Regions from separate parts of the Homo sapiens genome. Here region 1 is linked to region 2. The links come from fine-mapping of genetic effects on gene expression. Tissue or cell type: whole blood. Region 2 holds a variant in brackets; the other region holds the start of a gene. All regions are shown on one strand. Distances are from middle to middle.

The links. PIP is the estimated chance that this variant, and not a neighbour inherited with it, causes the effect.
Region 1: it holds the start of RNF144B, and the variant in region 2 is fine-mapped to the expression of RNF144B in whole blood (INTERVAL, PIP above 0.99).

What each region holds. Positions count from the first base shown.
Region 1 is chr6:18,384,020-18,392,265 of GRCh38, reverse strand. It overlaps RNF144B (ring finger protein 144B), which reads right to left and starts at 4,916. Exons shown (of 8, transcript NM_182757.4): 1 at 4,636-4,916.
Region 2 is chr6:18,520,258-18,528,503 of GRCh38, reverse strand. MIR548A1HG (MIR548A1 host gene) reads right to left here and starts at 5,757. Exons shown (of 8, transcript NR_149116.1): 1 at 5,669-5,757. RefSeq lists an enhancer at 277-912. The variant G/A (reference allele first, on the strand shown) is at 4,415.

The DNA.
Region 1 (8,246 bases), 140 kb after region 2:
GATAAGCTAACTCCAAATCCTACAGAGGACAGAACATCTGGCACATCGTTTTTTTTTTGAGACGGAGTCTCGCTCTGTCGCCCAGGCTGCAGTGCAGTGGTGCTATCTCAGCTTGCTGCAAGCTCTGCCTCCTGGGTTCACGCCATTCTCCTGCCTCAGCCTCCCAAGTAGCTGGGACTACAGGCACCTGCCACCACACCTAATTTTTTTTTTTTTTTTTTTTTTTTTTTAGTAGAGATGGGGTTTCACCATGTTAGCCAGGATGGTCTCGATCTCCTGACCTCCGTGATCCTCCCGCGTCGGCCTCCCAAAGTGCTGGGATTACAGGCGTAAGTCACCGCGCCTGGCCCTTGGCACATCTAGTTTTAACATTTGCAAACTGCTGCTCCTTTTTTTTTGAGATGGAGTCTGGCTCTGTCCCCCAGGCTGGAGTGCAGTGGCCCGATCTCGGCTCACTGCAAGCTCCGCCTCCTGGGTTCACGCCATCCTCCTGCCTCAGCCTCCCGAGTAGCTGGGACTACAGGCGCCCACCACCACGCTTGGCTAATTTTTTTGTATTTTTAGTAGAGATGTGGTTTCACCGTGTTTGCCAGGATGGTCTCGATCTCCTGACCTCGTGATCAGCCCACCTCAGCCTCCCAAAGTGCTGGGATTACAGGCATGAGCCACCGCAACTGGCTTTTTCTTAAAAGCACATTTCTTCTTGCCTTCTTTCCATGTTCTCATTACCCTACAGGGTAAGGCCCAAGAGGTAGAAATCCATTCCCAGTTTTCCAAACAATATAAACTTATCAAAGAAGGTGGGAGTGAATATGAGAATAACAGCTCAATGATATTTTTGGCATGGCAATTTTGCATTCATCATGGTAGCTACCTCTTCAATATCACCACTGTGCCTTGCCCACTCCTGTTTTAATCAGTGGTTCCCTGCCTCCCACAATTATTCACACAGCCCTGCTAAATAATTTTCTTCCCTATGCCTGGCATAACAACAAAGCTCAGAAGCAGGAAGGAACGCCACTTAAAGGCAGGTCAGACAATGATGTAATTGACCAATCAAGGAGAAGTGGTATTTCAAAGAGCCTTATAGAGCAAGAGCCAGGCTGATTTCTTGGGTCAGGACATTACCAGAAAACCAGAGCCGCTAAAGCACGAATATCTAAATCAAAAATTTTTTTTCAAATGAATAAAAGCATGTGCCAATATTACCCCCTCCTGTTAAAGTTAAAAGTTTCATATAGAAATTTTAATTAGAAACAAATTGGAAACCAGTTTGGAAGAGGAATCTTCACCCCACCTGAGCAAAGTGCAGGTGTAGATTTTTGTATGTCTTTGCCAATTAATTTCCTATAACAGGAATTTATCATGAAGGAAACAAAGTCAACACACAAAGAACAAATTCTACACATTAGGTGCTAGGGATGTAAAGGTGATTAAACCCAGCTCCTACTTATTAAGAGTCAACTAGTTGAGGAGGTTTTCAACAGAGGATTTCATATAATCATATGCAGGAGAATGTGTGGGTTTATGGTTTCAGCCACAAGTTCAACAGACAGAAACGAGTTGTCTTGTTTTATCTTCCCAAGAAAAACAAAGAACAAGTTGATGAAGGGCTGGGACTCAAACTCGTGACTTCAAAAGATTTAGAAAACAATGGGACATGGCTTTCAAAGTATGCTCTTAATAAATACTCCAAGCCATGTGATCAGAAGTATCTCCAGCTATGAATAAGAAAAGTCTATTTCACTTAGATTGCTGTGTTTTGAATTCAAGAAAGAGATCTGCTCATAGATGAGAAGATCCTCATTCCACGTTGCAGAAGCATTGGTCATTTTTACTCATTTAATATATAGTTATCCATTTTTTAATAACAACTATGGTATGATGCATTAGGTTCCAAAGTACTCACCGACTGGGTAAATAGCAAATGCCAAAGTTAATAAAACTAAAACTTTAGTCCAAGACCTCCCACATACACCTAAAGGTAAAAATTATGAATTAAAATATTTACATAAATTAACTTAGGTGTCATATACCTCTTAATGGTCAAATGGTCAAGGTAACACTACCAAGAAAATTAAGATGATCGAGGTGACAAACATCGAAGTACTTTTTATAATCTGGCAAAGCAATGTGAATTCAGAACTACCACTCTAGACCCAAGTCACTTCTGACCTTATGAGAATTTCTTCCGGACAGAGACCACATCTTAGCCATCTTTATATCCCAGCATCTAACCTAGCACCTAGCAAATCAGTCACTCAGTAGTAGAGTGGATAACTTTTCTGATTGTACTTGGAGGAGAGAAAATATTAAAGGCCTGGTTCTCATCTGTATTCACTTCCAGAAATTCACAAGCTGAAAATATTGACCATTTGTTTCAGGTAAGGAGCTTCTATAAATTAAGGTAGGCACCCCTGAAAGAAATGTTTCAGTACTTAGGAGCAATGGCTACAGATACCTATTCCCCAAAGTCCAAGTGAAAAGCATGACTTGTCTGGCAGCTTGGCCCTTTTCCCACATCCAAAATAATCAGTTGTACAAAGTAGGCTTAGTCCCAAAACTGCTCAGACTTTGTTCCTTCAGTAACATCTGGGTTCAGCATGATTCCTGACCTCTATCTCAAACTGGAGATTTCAAACACTAAAAACTTCACTCTCCAAGAAAGTAATGTCATAAAGTCAAGGCCAGGGGAAACAAAGAAGCCAGGATTAGCAGAAACACTTCGGAGAAAGGATTCTGACATACATATAAATGTTTCTAAACGTCTAAAATATTGAAATGACTTTTCAAGAAGGAAATTTTAAGTGCACCTCCTCAGATGAAAAATATTCATACTACTGAGGAGAAAGACGTTTTTCAGGAAGTTAAATGGTCATACCAGGTAGATAAAATAAGCTTTTTCTTTCCAGAGAGAGCATACTCTTCTCTCTGCTGTAGAGTTTGGCTCCAAAAACCTGGTTCATAATCTGAGACCCAAAAACTGATTATTTTAAAAAGACATGTCTTAAGCTGACCTAGTTTGGAAGCCTGAATGCCTTTAAATTGCCAATGAACTGAAACCATTCATGAGAATGGGCCTTTTGAATGCTGAGAATGTTCTTTGGGACTCAGCACAAAGATATTTGGCATAGATGACTGTAAATATTTGTAAAACTCTGGGTAAATGGGCAGGATTTGACCACACTCAAGCCCGACTTCCAGCACAGTAGTGTAGGAGAAAGTTATCTAGGGTGATTGTTTGGGGTTTTGGGGGGTTTTTTTGGTTGAGTTTTGTTTGTTTTAAATAAAAAGCCAAGCAACCCAATTCTACTACTCAACATCTTTTTCACGTTCACTATATATGTTTACCTTTTTTTAATCAAGATAATTAATTAGTCAGAGACTACTTTTGAAACTGAGGTTTTTCCCTTTCCCACTTTTCTAAGTTTATGCCCACGACAAAAATAAAAAAAAAAATGCCAGTCAAAGGTGTGCAAGGGCAGAGCAGGAGTTGTGTGAAACCATGACCTTGGATTTCATAATACAATTATCTACAAGTGGCTTTGTGGATCTGCTATAGGTTTTTCTCCCCCTCAGGATAGTTTTAGAAGTATTTAAGGCACTGCTGTCCATGAAAAGGACCCAGGTTGTGAAGGAAAGATAAACTAAGGAGAAGGAGGGACTCACAGAGGGATTTGATGTGAAAGGGACCAAGAGGCTCATTTCAGTGAAAGCTGCGGCAGACAGATACTCTAATTAGCCAGCAACTCAGTTAGGACTGGCTAGGTTCCTTTTGCCTCTTACCCACACCCTAAAAACTGAGTCATCCCAAAGTTCATTTATTTTGCTTCTGGGCACAGACACCCCCTAATCTGCTTCCTCAGAAATGTTAGATACATTGCCATTTAATTTATACCTCTCAATGTTCAAATAAACGTCCAGAAATGCCAAATCGGAAGAGCAGAGATAGTCCTGTTAAGAACCTCAGAGCTAATGTTTTGATAAGATACATGTGGCAGAAAGCAATATGAAACTGACAGTCTGTTATGAGAACATGAAAAAAGAACATTTCCCAGAGAAGGGAATTAATTTCTGGGAAATCTTTATGTGAATAGTGTATATGCATGAGGAGTAGACTTACAGCAGGATCCTTGAAACTCATGAGAAAAACAAAAGGTGTTTTAGAAAGAATAAGCAAAAGATACCTACCTTTTCCCTGCACAAACGACAATCAGTTCGATTTTAACTTAAATTTGAGAATGGCTCTCGTAGTATCAGAGTTTCACTGTTTCATTAGCAATTACCTGATAAAATAAGCACTATAATGCATAATCCGAGATTATGCCAACTTTTGGTCTCCCCTTAAGACCTAGGGAGAGGTCTGGTCTAATCTCGGATTCTACAATACATTCTATTATAGAAACTGTTTTATTAGAAATGAAACTACTTTCCTTTAACAAAGGCATTTTTCTTCTAAGTTAACAGGTGTTTAAGGCATTCAGAATGAATTCAGTTCTGTATGGTTTGAGCACTAGAGACAGAAAATCGAAAAATTGTGGTGTCACAGTGAGTTTCCTGTCCTTTTTCCTTAGTCCAGCAACACCATTCCGGTCTTGCAACGCCTGTAGCCTTTAAAAAGCTCGCTAAACCTACCTGGCAGCAGACCTGCGTTCCTCCGTCGCCGGGCTTCTCAGTAGCCTCCCTCGCGCTCACCGCCAGTCCGGGCTGCTGGCACACCGGACAGGAGCTCTTCCATTCTCTCCGTCTTTCCTCCGTGCTCTGCGGCTGACAGCTTTACACTTTGCAAGACTGCAACAGGACTTGCGCTCCCAGACCTACGGGTCGGGAGGAGGCGGAGTCCCCGACCGCCTCCTAGCCTTGACTGGCAGCTGCGATGCCCGGGACTGTTGCAGCGGGAGCGTGGGGCACAGCTCGCCAGCAGCGGTAGCAGCGCGTTTATTTATACAGGAAGCTCAGGCGCCGCACTTCCTACTTCCCATGTGGGTCGTACTTCAGCTGCAGGTGTTGGCCTTAACCCTATCCGAACCCGGGCGCGCTGCACCGACTCTACTGCTTGTCAGGACCTGTCTCTTGTTCTCCTGGGACCGCTGTTGCAGGAATTCAGAGCAGGGGGTGCAGGCAGCTGCCCCTAGCGCACTTCTTCTGCCCAGACAGGGACAGCTCACCTCTTGGCCTTAAGCGCCTGCTACCTCTCTGTCTGTACATATCCTCACAGGCCACCTTTCTTTATTTTCTCCCTCCTTCCCAGCTCTTTAAATCTCTTTCTTCTACTTCTAACAGCCCAGACCTGCCTTCCCACGTGGCAGACAACTGTTTTATAGAAACACTTCCCATGCACATCTCATCAAAAAACAGCTTGTACCTCACTTGTCCTTTTGCATCTAATGATGAAATTAGAATACCTGTGAATCAAATCGGGAATAATCTTAGTTTACCTCATAAAATACAGACACTTCTTGATGAAACAATGATTTCACTTGAAGTGCTTTGTAACTTAACTGGTTGTACCCTCAATTAAACAAAAATGTAACAAAATAATCCAGAAGCTGTGAGGTATTATGAAGTGCTTCCTTGCTCCAAACCCTTGGACACTTCATTTGTGTGACATTCATAATGAATCGCATACCTACTCATTCCCCATATCCCCCATAGATCACAATCACCTAAGTCTGCTGAACATTGCCATTTAGGAATGTCGCTCTGACACAAGAATCTGTGTTCACTCTGCAATCCCTCTCTACTTTTGCAACCACTGTCAGGAATGTGCTTCCTAAAAGGAAGGGACTCACAGGCCCTTTGTGGAAAGGATCTGTGCACGCCAACAGGCACCATTCCAAACGACACAAGCAAACATTGCTTCTCAGCCCTCCAAGTTGAAGAAAACCTCTAGGTCAAAGCAAAGTGCTGAATAACACAGTGTATCTACATGTGCCATGCTAGGGCAGGTAGGAGGACCAGCTCACCAGTCAGGGAGGAAGAGAAAAAGGACAGGGGCAATAAGATGATAAAAGAACCCACGGTAGGATATTTGAGCTTGAAAAGTCTTCCTAGCTATTTTAGCAAATAACCTGATTTTAAAAATAAGGAAACTGGGCTGGGTGCGGTGGCTCACATCTGTAATCCCAACACTTTGAGAGGCCAAGGCGGGCAGATCATCTGGGGTCAGGAGTTCAAGACCAGCCTGGCCAACATGGTGAAACCCCGTCTCTACTAAAAATACAAAAAATTAGCTGGGCGTGGTGGTGGGTGCCTATAATCTCAGCTACTCGAGAGGCTGAGGCAGGTGAATCGCTTGAACCTGGGAGGCAGAGGCTGCAGTGAGCCGAGATTGCGCCATTGCACTCCAGCCTGGGTAACAAGAGCGAAACTCTGTCTCAAAAAAAAAAAAAAAATAAGGAAACTGATGTCCAGGAAGATTTAAGAGATTGGCCCAAACCAGACACAGGCCAAGCTAGAATGAGACCTAAATCTGAGTTACATGAGGAAGGTGAATGTAAATGAAAACCATCCCAAAGGAAGTCCAACCTTCAGATTTAGCAATGGCTTAGGTTCTGAGATAATCTATTTCAAGGAATTTTCTTGGTATAGTGACCATTTTGGTGGACAGGAACTAGGAAAGATAAAAAGCAACCTCTAAGAGGTTAGTTTATTCATTGGTGTTGATGCAAATCTCCTGAGCCTTAAACCAAAGTTCAACACAGAGTCCACTTTTCAAATTACCATTCATAAATTATAATCTCTTGTTAACAGGATAAGGGAAGAAGCTGCTGCCAATATGAATGAGAACATAAGCACGAATAGTGCTGCCTATTATCCCAAATATTTTGCACAACTGAGTAACATCACCACTGATTATTTTCAACCATGCAACTATGCAAATTTTTTTTAAATTGCAGTCAAAATTTAATAAGACTAAATAAACACGTTGAATGCTATAATATTATGTGAACAAACTCTCTCAGATCTTCCTAAGGAGTCTACAGTGTGAATGGATATTCATTCTCTGGAGCATTTATTGATTTCCTCCCAGACAATCTGCTAGGTTGTATTAAGATAATGATATTAGACATGGTCTCCCTGTCCTCAAAGACCTCTCAATCCAGGGAAGGAGTAAGACAAGCAAATCAATTATCAGGGTACTGATAGTTGTACCCAATGTGTGAGTGATACATAATGTGTGATATGATAGACTTAAGCATGATGTGCTATTGGGAGCACAGAGAAGAAGAATTTAAAGGAAAGGAGTTGATGAAAAGAATCAAGTCTTCTCTGAGAAGGTGATTATATTAATCTGTTCTCACATTGCTATAAAGAAATAACTGAAACTGGGTAATTTATAAAGAAAAGAAGTTCAATTGGCTCATGGTTCTGCAGCTGCACAGGAAGCATGGCTGGGGAGCCCTCAGGGAGGTTACAATCATGGTAGAAGGTGAAGGGGAAGCAGGCACGCATGTCTTACGTGACTGGAACAGAAGCAAGGCGGGGTGGGGCAGGGAAATGCCACACATGTTTAAACAACTAGGTCTCTCAAGAACTTATTGTCACAAAAAACAGCACCAGGAGATAGTGCTAAACCATTTATGAGAACTCTGTCCCTATGGTCCAATTACCTCCCACCAGGCCCCACCTCCAACATCGGGGATTACAATTCGACCACGAGATTTGGCTGGGGACACAGATCCAAACCATATCAGTGATTTAAATCTATGTCTTCAAGTAGCCCAATAGGTGTGGTAGAGAAGGGTAAACCAGGCTGAGCAAACAGCTAAAACAAAGGGTTAGACATGAGACTCTAGGTGAAATTTTTCATAATTCAGACAGAGCTGATACATCCAGAATAAATGAATGAGGGTCTGAGCTAATGCAGTGACAACTGCCATGCAAAGGAAGGGAACCAATGGAGAGAGATTTCAGAAACAGAAGTGATGGAACTTGGTATCTGATTGGATGTTATATTAGTCCATTCTCACATTGCTATAAAGAAATACCTGAAACTGGGTAACTTATAAAGAAAAGAGATTTAATTGGCTCACAGTACTGCAGGCTTTATAGGCTTTAAGCATGATGCTGGCATCTGTTTGGCCCTCTGGAGAGGCCTGTCACATGGTCAAAGTAGGTGCAAGAGAGCGTTTCGGGGGGAGGGGGGAGGGAGGCGGTGCTACACACCTTTAAACGACCAGCTCTCACAAGAACTCACTATCCCCAGGACAGTACCTAGGGAGATGGTGCTAAACCATTCGTGA
Region 2 (8,246 bases):
GAAGATAAAATCACTGATTAAAAAAAAGGAAAAAAATGTTTGCACAAGCATCATGCAAAATTATTTTTATTGACAAAAAGTTATCTCACCAATCATTGAGTAGAACCTTCTTATTTTCAGGTGAGAAAACTAGAGGACAGAAAGTGATACAATTAGCCCAAAGTCACAGGGCTACACAGCACAGAGCTGGGATAAGAATCTCACTCTCTAACTCTCAGGTCAGGGTTCTTCCTGACATGTCACATTCCTGAGGCTGCAGCATAGATCCAGTTATCCTTGGATAGCATCACTTGTCTGAGCCAAAACTCTTTGGTTCTAACCACGTAACTGGACAAGTTTCTCTCAGCACGATGAGTCCAGCACATCCTCAATCACAAGTTCAAACCCTTACAACCATGTTGCTGAAAAAAAAACAATGGTTAATGAGGCCATGTTGACAAGCATAGTTCATTATCAGCAAGCTAATGACCACTCAGGCCGCAGCAGGGATGCCAGCCTACAATTAGGTCTGCAGTGATGTACAAACAGAAAGGGACTCTAGTTATAATTAAACCTGATCCTTTAGTCCAATTGCTCATTAGGAAAGAAAATAAAACAATCCACAGATCCCACACAAGAAGGCCTAAAACTAATGCTTTGGTCCGGGGATGAAATGTTAGGCCATTGAGCTATTAGCCCATGTCTGTCTGCTGCTGAATGAGCACTTAAGCTTATATTCTTATTCAAAATACTTTGTAATGAAGGAGGATTGGTTTTCATCTTACTGATTTTGAAAGCCGTGGCACAAAGGATGCTGGATAATTTTTCATTTTCTTCATTTTGCCTATCACGATTGTTCAATCGTTTTTCCTGTGGACCTGTATTACTTGTGCAATTAAATATATTTAAAAAGTACTAAATCTTGCCAAAATCTCTTCAAGTAATGAAAACTAGGCATTAAACATAAGAATACACATAAGCACGAGCCTTTCATAATTAGAAGAAGGAACTACCTCTATAGAAAGGCAACATGATGTTATAAAAATAAAAAAGTCAGCACAGTATATGGGTTCTGAAACCAGAGGACTGGAATTCATGCGACAGCTTTGCTAGTGAACCCTTGGACGGGTATCTAAAATTTTAAAGGAAGGTGTCTGTGATTAAATGAAAGGTCTAGGTAAAGATCCTAGGAGATGTGAAAAAAAAAAAGTGATTCATAAATTACAGGTTCCTTCCTCTTCCCCATATTCCCCTGCATTGCTTTTCTGTCCTCATAATTCCTAAAATATGTCTAAATCTAGAAAGAGATGTCTTACTAAGAAAGACCAATTGAAAGCTTTGAATTGATGAGGAAAGAAGATGTAAGTAGGCCTAAGGAGGGAAAGTAGTAAGAAGAGAGGGAGAAGAGGAGGCAGTATTAACAAGAAAGAAGAGAGAATGGGCTTCATTTGGAGACAAATTCTCTGGAGCCTTGAGAAGAGGTGGGGAGGACATTGGAAGAGTGAAGCTAATGAGATTAGAAAAGGTTTGTTTTCTCCCTTTCTTCCCATTTAGTCCCTTCCTTACCTTTTTGTCTCTTTCAGATTCTTAAATGATGAAGCCCTTTCTTATTCCTGTCCATTTATCCTTCATCTGCAACTTCTTTCTCGTTACTCAGTGCCCTAGCCGTGTGCTTTTGAATCAATCTCGCCAGCACCCTCTGGAAGTGTGTGTCATCAATTATCTTTTCATTACATAACGTTTCTCACACATACCTTCAATCTGCTCTTCTCTACTGGTCTCTTATCTGTCTATCTAAAAGCATTCTTAGGTTTTCTCTGTACTTAAGATTCAATCCCAGGAGCCCTTATATTGCCATGTGCTCCCTGGGTAACAGAAAGGGAAAGCACTGTGAAGAATACATCATTCTTTAAAAAACCAGTTCCTGCGCTCAAGGGGCTTACCAATTAGTTGTGGAGAAAAGACTATGTCATTAGAAACAATGGTGATCAATAAAAGGAGTATATAATTAAGTCCTAAATTGGCTCGTCAGACTCTGAGTCTCTACAGCTTGGGGGATGCACGCCAAGGAGTTCCCCAAGGTGCTATGGTAAGGGATGATTTGGAGGAAGCACCAGGCCAGAATATTGCACAAAGCAATTACTCAATAAATATTTGTGATTTGGTTTGAGACAAAATGTTAGCTAAGCCTTGAAAATCATTATAAGATCGCCACTTCTCCCACCTACTTGACAATTCTCCTTCTTCATTGGTTTTAAGGTGCATATTGTTTCACATCTTAACAATTCTGGAACAAGGATGTATTTTTCAATCAAGGAGACTCAGCATGTGTTACAGACTAATTGCCAGTGCTTTTTCTTTCTTAGTGGTATATAAAATAATGGTACAACTTACAACCGATGGCTTCTTAGATTCCATAAAACACAGTTTTTTTGTGTATCCAGTATATTTCAGGTTGCTATTTTAGGCCCTAGGGATATGTGAATAAGAAATGTAAAGTTTTTCTTTTGTGAAGCTTGCATTGTGATAGAGGAAGACAGATAATAAACAAATTAACAAATATATGATACACTGATGCCAGGTATGGTGACACAGACTGAATAGGAACTAGATTTAGGCCTAGATCCCAATCTACTGTGCAGGAAAATAAAAAATAATGAGAAGTGAAGTTTTTAAAAATCAGATTTCACGTACGAGAAATAGCAATTTGGAAGGAATTTACACATATTTTGGGTATTTCATCTCCTCTGCTAGACAGTGAGCTCCTTGAAAACTTTTTATAAAGGGCAATTTACTTAATTTTACTACAAAAGCTGAAAAATATAGTATGGATTGGACCCTTGATCTCAAGGGTCAGGAAACTTTTTCTGTATAGAGCCAGAGAGTCAATAATTTCAGCTTTGCACATCATATGCTCAATGACACAACTACTCACCTCTGCCATTGTAACACAAAAGCAACATGGATAAATACATAGATAAGCATGGCTGTTTTCCAACAAAATTTGGTTTATAAACACAAGTCGCAGGCTGAATTGGCTCCACATTGCAGTTTCCCAACCCCTGAACTAGGTAGCTATTCCTAAAGGCTCCTAGAACTCTGGAATTCTTTGAGATCTAAGCCTGGAGACCTATTTACCACAGCATATACAAATGATCCTCGACTACAATGGTTTGGCTTACAATTATTTTTCATTTTTAATGGTGCAAAAGCAATACACATTCAATAAATACCATACTTTGAGTACTCATACAGCCATTCTGTTTTTCACTTTCAGTATGTTATTTAATAAATTACACGAGATGTTCAACACTTTATTGTAAAATGGGCTTTGTGTTAGATGATTTGGCCCAGCTGCAGGCTAACATAAGTGTTCTGAGTATGTTGAAAGTCAGCTAGGCTAAGCTATGACATTTGATAAACCTATAGGTGTATTAAATGCATTTTTCCTTATAATAGTTTCAATTTGCAATGGGTTTATTGAGATGTAACCCCTCGAAGGCAAGGAGCATCTGTACAACATCCACAAGATTCCCCAGATTGTTAGTAAGGCCACAGAAACAAACCAAGAAAAGGGGAGCAGCAATGTTTCTGGGGTATCATATGTGGAGATGAACCCATTTACAAAGGTTTGCTCAAAAACCAAAAATTTCAACTCATCCCAACATACATGGCCTTCCAGATAGATTCAGGGAATCCTGCACTAAAAAGAACAGGTCTTTTTACAGCCACAGATAGGAGGTCAGCAGGTGATTAGTGAGGTCTGCATGCTCAGACCTGGCTTGTTGCACTGCGGTCAATTACACAGCTGGTTACAAGTGTGTGTTTGCACCTGTTCAAGCCTTCAAATGTGCTAATCCTATATTAATTAAGCAACTTCTTAGAAGCAGGTTAAAAACAAATTAGACCCTGCCATCCCATGCCTGTTCCAGCCTTCCCTTGGTAGCCCTTCATCTATAAGGGATCATCTACAGAGGGTAAGGAGCAATGTTTCTTCGTAATTCGGGAGGGGCTCATTATGCCCCATCAATTAGTGCTGCCACCACTTAGTGAAAACAGTTGTTGGTACATAGCCCATATTAGTGACTAATTAATAAGGGTTGATTAGCTAAGCCCCCTCACAAGGTATAACAGGCAACAGCCACCTTCCACAAGGACTACGGATTAAAACAGAGATATCAACAATGTAAAATGAAAGAAATTTTGCTGGTGACCCTCATCTTTTTTTTTTTTGCTTGGAGACGGAGTCTCACTCTTTTTCACCCAGGCCGGAGTGCAGTGGCGCTGTCTGCAAACTCCGCCTGCCGGTTCACGCCATTCTCCTGCCTCAGCCTCCCGAGTAGCTTGGACTATAGGCGCCCGGCTAATTTTTTGTATTTTTAGTAGAAATGGGGTTTCACCGTGTTAGCCAGGATGGTCTCGATCTCCTGACCTC[G/A]TGATCCGCCTGCCTCGGCCTCCCAAAGTGCTGGGATTACAGGCTTGAGCCACCGCGCCCGGCTACCCTCATCTTTCTGAATGGGTTAAGAGACAGCACAGTCCATAGCTAACCAGTACACCTTATGATTTCAATACATTGAAATGATTTCAGTTGCCAAGGATGTCTGGCTTGTTATTCTTTGAATCATTGATAAAGGGAGGAAAGTAGTACCATAGCAGATTAATGTGGGAGCTTATCTCAGGGAGGTAGAAAAATCGACCCTGTACATGTAGGATGCACACCATACTGCAAAACATAGGACATGAATGTGTATCTATTTAGATATCCCTGTTGATATTTTCAAATGTTATTTTTATTAGGAGCATGGAATAGTGGGTAAAAACAAGAGACTCAGATTAGTGATTTGACTAATTATGGATCAAGCAAAATGTTCATGTTTCTGTATATCAGTTATTGTGTTATATCATAATTACCTGTTGTGTATCTCCCTCATTCACACACACACACACGCACACATAGACACAAATTTTGATCACGGGTTCTTTGAAGTTAGGGGTCAAATCTCATTTATCTTCATATTCCATAGAAGAGAGCATTTTAGAAACTTCTTAGCCATTTGATGAATAGATTAAGGAATGAATGCTTTAACTTCTGATTACTGGCTAATATTTGTATCTTTAGTAGAGATGGGGTTTCATCATATTGGTCAGGCTGGTCTTGAACTCCTGAACTTGTGATCCACCCACCTCAGCCTCCCAAAGGGCTGGGATTACAGATTACAGGCGTGAGCCACCACACTCGGCAGCTGATTCCATCTTTTTTTTTTTTTTTTTTTTTTTTAGACGGAGTTTCACTCTTGTTGCTCAGGCTGGAATGCAATGGCACAATCTAGGCTCACTGCAACCTCTGCCTCCCAGGTGCAAGCAATTCTCCTGCCTCAGCCTCCTGAGTAGCTGGGATTACAGGCATCCGCCCGCACGCCCGGCTAATTTCGTATTTTTAGTAGAGACGGGCTTTCTCCATGTTGGTCAGGCTGGTCTTGAACTCCCGACCTCAGGTGATTCGCCCGCTTCGGCCTCCCAAAGTGCTGGGATTACAGGCTGAGCCACTGCGCCCCGCCTGATTCCATCTTTTACTCATGGCATCATTCCTTGCTACTCTTAACAGGTGTATTACTCCATTTTCATGCTGCTGATAAAGACATACCCAACTCTGGATAATTTATACAGGAAAAAGGTTTAATGGACTTACAGTTCGACGTGGCTGGGAGGCCTCAGAATCATGGCAGAAGGCGAAGAGGAGCAAGTCACATTCTACGTGGATGGCGGCAGGCAAAGAAACGGTTTGTGTAGGGAAACTCCCGTGTTTAAAACCGTCAGATCTCGTGAGACTTATCCACTAGCACGAGAACAGCACGGGAAAGACCCACCCCCCGTGTTTTAATTACCTCCCACCAGGTTCCTCCCACGACACGTGGGAATTGTTGGAATTAAAATTCAAAATGAGATTTGGGTGGGGACACAGCCAAACCATATCAACAGGTTTCCTTGGGATAAGTCTGATGCGTTTAGCATATCAAAGCTATCACTGTTCTCCAGTTTACCAAAATACCTCTTTCCAAACACGATGGAGAAAGAAGAAAAATGAGTGAAAAAGAGAAAAAAACCTCTAACCTACTCCCTAAGAATGTTCATCGTGGCACCATTTAAAATAGAGACTGCAAATAAACCTAAGGATGGTTAAATATAGTATGATACATTCTACATGTCATATGAAATCATTAAATTAATGTTTTAAAAGACTAAGAGTATTTAATGACATAGAAAGTGTTCCACTGAGATATCGTTAGAAATAAAAGGCACAATCCCTGCAGGATAATATAAAATAATATGTATCATGTGCATCTCTAAAAGGCCAGAGGTATAAGATTCAAAATATTTTAAAAGGCTCTCTCTGGTGACAGAATTGGGTGATGTTTATCTTCTCCTTTGTGTTTTTCTGGAAGATCCAAAGTTTTACAACATGTGCTACATTATAGTCAAAGGAAAAAAGTCCATATGAAAAAAAGAAAAGGTTTTGCTTTTATATATCTTTATACGACATCATAAAAACCATGCAATCTCATCAGTCAGGCTGAACTCCAGCAGCTACTAAAACCAGTTTAATTAATGATTCTCACATAAATTAAGTGAACTTACATTACCAGATAATAAAACATATTATGACACTACAATAACGTAGTACACACATAAAAATTGATGGTAGAAACAAATAGCCCAGAAATGGATCCTAATATATATCTACTCAAAAAGAACTTAGTATATGATAAAGGTGAGATGACTAATCATTCAAGAGGAGGAAGGATTATTTCATAAATAGTGTTAAAATAGAGAGTTAACTGTTTCAGTGAGAAGATAAATCACTGCCTTACAAGATACAATAATGTACATTTTGGATGGATTTAATTATTAAGTGTAAAAACTACACTCAGGAGACCCAGAAGAAATAATAAATATGTGAATTTATAATCTAGAATTTCAAATATCTTTCTAATCAATGATAAAGGAAAAAATAAACCAGAAAGAGAGGGAGACCAATTTTCCTACACTTTTGTATATCACTTACTCACATCAAAAACCACCATAAAAGGCCTGGCGCAGTGGCTCACGTCTGTAATCCCAGCAACTTGGGAGGCCAAGGCAGGCGAATCACCTGAGGTCAGCAGTGATTCCTGCTGAAACCCCGTCTCTACTAAAAATACAAAAATTAGCCGGATGTGGTGGCACACGCCTGAAACCCCAGCTACTCCAGAGGCTGAGGCACGAGAATCACTTGAACCCAGGCAGCAGAGGTTGCAGTGAGCCGAGATTGTGCCACTGCACTCCAGTCTGGGCAACAGACTGAGACTCTGTCCTCAAAAGAAAAAAAAAACTTTATGTTCCATTAGGGCAGGGGCTGTCTCTCTCTCATTTGCTGCTGAATGTTACACCTTCTGCAGTGCTTCACACATAGTGGGCAATCAATAAGTATTGATCAAATAAAAGAATGATCATTTACAAAAGAGTAAATAGAAATGACCATTAACACAGTTATGTTTTAAAAGTCCCACATGACTGGTAATCAAAGAAATGAAAGATGAAGCAGAGATAACACTTTATTCCCTCAACTTGGCATGTATGTCTTTTAAAATAATACTCACTGCTGTCAGGTATATGATGAAATGAGTACTCTCACTCACTGCTACTAGGAATCTGTTAGGTCAAAATTTGTCAAAATGTGCAAAAATCTCAAAAGTGTTTTGATCCTTCAGCAATATTTTCATTTCTGAGAATTTATTATGGAAAAATAATCTAAATAAACACAAAAATATCAATCTCCGCAATCCTGGTAATGCTGTAAATTGGAAACAACCTAATTGTTAAATACAGGGAATTGATTAAATAATTATATACATATGAAATAATGTTATAAAATATTAATATTTGTGATTTTGAATATTTAAGTATATGGAAAATTGTATGTTATAAAACAAGTTTAAGGATAAATCTATACGTATATATTGATTCCCATATTTTAGAAAATATATGGATATCTATACGTTAAAAAAAATAATATGTAGTCCAGGCGCAATGGCTCCTGCCTGTAATCCCAGCACTTTAGGAAGCTGAGGCAGTTGGATCACCTGAAGTCAGGAGTTCGTGACCAGCCTGGCCAACATGGTGAAACCCTGTCTCTGTTAAAACTACAAAAATTAGCCAGATGTGGTGGCACATGCCTGTAATCCCAGCTACTCCGGAGGCTGAGGCACGAGAATCGCTTAAACCCAGGA